Linked DNA regions of Homo sapiens: region 1 is linked to region 2. The links come from fine-mapping of genetic effects on gene expression. Tissue or cell type: whole blood. Region 2 holds a variant in brackets; the other region holds the start of a gene. All regions are shown on one strand. Distances are between the middles of the regions.

Evidence for each region. PIP is the estimated chance that this variant, and not a neighbour inherited with it, causes the effect.
Region 1: it holds the start of PHLDA3, and the variant in region 2 is the best candidate, but not a certain one, in a credible set for the expression of PHLDA3 in whole blood (TOPMed, PIP 0.55).

Annotation. Positions count from the first base shown.
Region 1 is chr1:201,468,031-201,470,787 of GRCh38, reverse strand. PHLDA3 (pleckstrin homology like domain family A member 3) reads left to right here and starts at 1,600. Exons shown (of 2, transcript NM_012396.5): 1 at 1,600-2,447. The coding sequence starts at 2,002. The coding sequence ends at 2,385. RefSeq lists silencers at 1,331-1,560, 1,771-2,080 and enhancers at 1,581-1,700, 1,215-1,929, 2,151-2,290, 2,361-2,420.
Region 2 is chr1:201,444,422-201,447,178 of GRCh38, reverse strand. No RefSeq gene overlaps it. Among named protein-coding and RNA genes, the nearest start is that of PHLDA3, 23 kb to the left of the region's middle. The variant G/A (reference allele first, on the strand shown) is at 1,485.

The sequences.
Region 1 (2,757 bases), 24 kb before region 2:
CTGCTCTCTGGGCCTCAGGAGACACCTGTCTTTGTCTTTTCTTTAATGCCACTGTCTATTCCCTCTCCTGGAGGGGCATTCTGGGAGTTAGGAGTTAGTTGTCGTCACACGTGTGTGTGTGTGTGTGTGTGTGTGTGTATAAAGAGTTATGGATGAGACACTGACAGTTCCCTTCTCTCATCTCCTAACTTTGGGACTGCAGAGGAGCGCACTCCTATCCCCACAACAGGACCTTCCCTGTATCTGTTAGGCTCTGCTCTTTGGGCAGGAGGATGGCAACACAGGGTGTAAGTACAAAGAGGTCTTATTACTGTCATTATTATATATCATTACTCCCGTAAGAATCTATTATTAACATGTTGATGAATAGACCTTTAAGAAACTGTGGGCCTGGAGGAACTGATCAAGATGGGGACAGAATGAGGACCTAAGAGAGCCCTCTTCCAGTGCCTGGCTTAATCTCAGGGCCCCCATCATTCTCTAAAGGGAATAAGAGTGGGGAGAGGGGAGGAAGAACATTTCTTGAGACTCAAGAGTTGTCAGGTCCTGTCTTGGGTCTTTCACAAATGTTATCCAACTTATTCATCAGGACAACCCCATGAGATGAGAATAAATTAATCCTCCTATTCGACAGATGAGGAAATTGACGGAGGTCAGTAAAGTTGCCCCAGGTGGGCAGGACACAGCCAACAAGGGAGAAGAGGTTTGAACTCAACTCTGCAAAGCTCTTGTGTTTACACAATATTCTAGCCAGAACAGAAAGAGACCTCTCCCTCTGCGTTCCCCTCCAGCTCTGTATGCGGGAGAAGTCCATTCTTGGGGAAGGCCGAGGGAGGACAGAATCTGCGGAGCGGAAGGAGCAAGGTTGGAGCTGCGCTTACACCTGGGACTGGCTGTGCCATCGGTCCAGCGTCGGCGCCTGCAAGTGTGCGGTGGAGAGGACTGCAGACAGTGGCATCCCCAGGTCACGGAGGGGGTCCCTCCTCCCCCACTACGAGGAGGGCATGAATGACCTCAAGCCTCAGCTCTCCTTTGTTGGCACTGGCTACTCTCTACAGGCCTCCCCGCGCAATGCATGGGGGTAGGAGTAGGAGCAGGTGAACTGTCCAAGCAGAGGCAGCGATGGACAGCCTCTCTTGGGTGCTGCACAGAGAAATCGGGCGATGGAGGAGGAACCCAACATGGGCTTGATGCAGAGGCTGGGGGCCCCATGGCGTGCCAAGTAACCAGCAGCTGTCTGACGCCTAACATGCAACTGGTGCCACTGCGCGTTCGCCAAGCAAGCCCACCCCCTTGCTAGCAGCGCGCTCTCCAATCGAGGAGATGCGCCTTCCCCCTCCCTTCCCCGCCATCTCCCCCTTCATTCAAGGCCTGGGGGAGCTGCGGTTCCGAGAAGCGGCAGACGGCAGCCAGAAGGCTTGGGCTGTTGAGTAAGCAGCCCCCTCTCAGTCCCGGCCCTCCCCGCCCCGCGCCCTGCGCCTCCAGTGAGTGACTGAGCCCCCGCTGCGGCCCCGCCCCCGGGGCCCTGCCGGAGCTGGTGCGCGGCGCGGAGGGGAGGGCCGGCCAGGGTAGGAATGCGCTGCGGGCGGGCGGCGCAGGAGGCGAGCGGCGGAACATGTAAGGGCACATCCCGCGAGCTGCCGCCCAGCGCGCAGACAGAGCCCAGGGGAGCAAGAGAACGGGCGGGCGGTGGGGCTCACGGCCTAGGGAGGCGCGGAGGCATCTGGCAGAGGCGGGTCGGGCTGGGCCAGCTGGGGTAGAGCGGAGGAGCGGGTGCCGGCTGAAGCGGGGCGGTGGGCGCGGAGCGCGCTGGGGGCACCGACACCACCTCACCGGCAGCCGGGTGCTGAGGGCCGCGGTGTGGGTGCGCGGAGCAGTCAGGGCGCAGGTGGGCAGCGCGCACGGCCTGCCAGCCCGGGGCGCCAGAATCCTGCGCTGCGGGGCCGAGAGGGGCGCCGCGCCCGCCGCAGCCTGGAGCTTTCCGCGAACCTCGGGGCGCCCATGACGGCGGCGGCGACGGCTACCGTGCTCAAGGAGGGCGTGCTGGAGAAGCGCAGCGGCGGGCTGCTGCAGCTGTGGAAGCGGAAGCGCTGCGTCCTCACCGAACGCGGGCTGCAGCTCTTCGAGGCCAAGGGCACGGGCGGCCGGCCCAAGGAGCTCAGCTTCGCCCGCATCAAGGCCGTGGAGTGCGTGGAGAGCACCGGGCGCCACATCTACTTCACGCTGGTGACCGAAGGGGGCGGCGAGATCGACTTCCGCTGCCCCCTGGAAGATCCCGGCTGGAACGCCCAGATCACCCTAGGCCTGGTCAAGTTCAAGAACCAGCAGGCCATCCAGACAGTGCGGGCCCGGCAGAGCCTCGGGACCGGGACCCTCGTGTCCTAAACCACCGGGCGCACCATCTTTCCTTCATGCTACCCACCACCTCAGTGCTGAGGTCAAGGCAGGTAAGCCCCCGGGGGACTGGGCCCTCTTCTCTCCTTCCCTCCCTTCTCTTTCCCCTACAGAGAGAATGAGGACTAGCATTCTACTTCAGAGCCGGACATCTTAGGGGGGAGGTTCCTGGGGCCAACTGAGGGCATGGGAGGCTTGGGCCAGTGGCCAACCCAGCAGATCCGGACTTTCCCCTGAGGCACCAGGTTGGCCGGTCCAGAATGTGATCCAGGTGTGTGAGAGGAAGATGGAAGCCCTGGGAGGGGGATACCTGGGTGAGATGAGCCTTCTTTCAAGTTGGTTCAGCCCTGACTCAGGTGGAAG
Region 2 (2,757 bases):
TCTTCCTAGGCTGGTCTCAAACTCTTAAGTTCAAGGGATCCTCCTGCCTCACCTTGGCCTCCTGAAGTGCTGGGATTACAGACAAGTGCCACAATGCCTAAATAAGGTGTCCTTAAACAGAAACACATATAATACAAGGTTATACATTGATTTTATGTATTTATTTATTTATTTATTTATCTATCTGAGACAGAGTCTTCTCTGTCGCCCAGGCTGAAGTGCAGTGGTGTGATCTCAGCTCACTGCAACCTCCACCTCCCGGGTTCAATAGATTCTCGTGCCTTAACCTCCCAAGTAGCTGAGATTACAGGCATGTGCCACACCCGGCTAATTTTTGTATTTTTTAGTAGAGACAGGGTTTTGCTATGTTGGCCAGGCTGGTCTCGAACTCCTGGCCTTAAGTGATCTGCCTGCCTTGGCCTCCCAAAGTGCTGGGATTACTTACAGGCGTGAGCCACGATGCCCAGTCACAAACTAATTTTAAAAATTGATAAAAAACATTGTGATCACAGGCTTGCAAGAACATAATCCTGTATTTCCACTAGGAGCAATTGGTCAGTACTTGCTAATTCTGGGTTCCCAGAGACTTTATAGAATGTAACTACCCAAATAACAAGAATCTACCGTACTTACAGTTTTTCTCCAAGGCTTGAATATGTCAAGTGTGGCATTGTAGCAATTGCAGTTAATACTGTTCCCTGGTGTATAAGCTCTCGTGTTGATTCTCCTGAAGCCCCTAAGCTTCATGTGGGGGTCAGCTGCCTGAAGGTGGGATCCCTCCAGGAGTACACACAGACACATCACCAGCCTCATCTTCGCTGCTCATGCCTGAAACTTCTACCATGAATACTTTATTCATTCAGTTTCATTAAAAGGCCAACGTCTCTCTTGATGATTCACAGGGCTCTCTTCATTGACATTATCTTATTTGGCCTTCACAACAATTGCGATGGTAGTGTCATTGTTCCCATTTATAGATGAGTCTGAAGTTCAGAGAGGATAAATAATCCGACCAAGGTCACCTGGTTTGTTGATAGCTGTATTAGTCCCGTCCTCACACTGCTATAAAGAAATACCTGAGACTGGGTAATTTGTAAAGAAAAGAGGTTTAATTGGCTCATGGTTCCACAGGCTGTACAGGAAGCATGGCAGCATCTGCTTCTGGGGAGGCCTCAGGGAGCTTTTACTCATGGCAGAAGGCAAAGCGGGAACAGGCGTCCTGCATGGTGGGAGCAGGAGGAAGAGAGAGAGAGGGGAGGTGCTACACACTTAAAAATTTTTTTTTTGGAGACAGGGTCTCACTCTGTTGCCCAGATTGGAGTGCAGTGGCACAATCTCAGCTCACCGCAACCTCTGCCTCTCAGGCTCAAGCAATTCTCCTGCCTCAGCCTCCCGAGCAGCTGGGAATACAGGGATATGCTACCATGCCTGGCTAATTTTTGTACTTTTAGTAGAGATGGGGTTTCACTATCTTGGCCAGGCTG[G/A]TCTTGAACTCCTGACCTCAAATGATCCACCGGCCTTGGTCTCCCAACGTGCTGGGATTACAGGCGTGAGCCACCGTGCCCAGCCTACACACTTTTAATTAACCAGATCTTGTGATAACTCACTCACATCACTCACTCACTATCACGAGGATAGCACCAAGGAGATGGTGCTAAACCATTCATGAGAAAGCCACCCACATGATCCAACCACCTCCCACCAGGCCCCACCTCTAACACTGGAGATTACAATTTCACATGAGATTTGAGCAGAGACACACATCCAAACCATATTAGTGGCACAACAGTCAGAAAGCTTCAAATTCCACTGTCTTTCCACCACCAGACGCTGTCCTGGTAAAACATAAATGCTCCAGGGGAGGTAAAAGCCAGGTCTTGTTACTTACACTTTAGTGTGAATGAGTGCATTGAGATCCCCAAGGAAATTGACTGAGATCAGGTGGGTGATAAATATCTGATAAATACGCCTCTGCCTCTACCCTGGGCCAGGGATCACTGCTGCTTACTTGAATCACCCTGACTCCTCCTACCTCCCTTTCTGCCTGCAGTCCCTGCCCCGCTATCAACAGTTACCTTCCTAAAACTCAGGTTTGATTATCCTGCATCCCCTAAAATCAATCAGAGGATGCCTTTGCCTGTAGGGTGGGTCCACGTCACTTAGCTGGGATTCAAAGACTTTCCGATGACGTCAGCCTTCCTCTCTTGCCTCCCTTCCTACCAGCCTCCTATGGTCTGACCACAAAGAGAGGTTGCAGGATCTCACCATGCCTCTGCTTTCTCCCCTTCAAACTTTTGCTTGCATAGCTCCCTCTGCCTTTCTCTGCAATCTTAGTCAGCTGGGGCTGATAGAACAGAACAACATAGTCCTGGTGGCTTAAACAACAATTTATTTCTCATAGTTCTGGAAAACTGTGAAGGAGGCTGGGAAGTCTAAGCTCAAGGTGCTGGCAGATTCTTTGTCTGGTGCGGGTTCTCTTCCTTGTTTGCAGATGGCTGTCTTCTTATTGTATCCTTACATAATCAAGAGAAAAATAATCTGTCTCATGTTTCTTCTCAAAAGGGCACTAATTCCATTCATGAGGGCTCTACCTTCATGACCTCATCACCTCCCAAAGGCCCCACCTCCTAACACCATCACATTGCAGGTGAGGATTTCAACATATGAACTTTAGAGGGAGGCTGGGTGGGGTGGCTCACATCTGTAATCCCAGCACTTTGGGAGGCTGAGGTGGGTGGATCACCTAAGGTCAGGAGT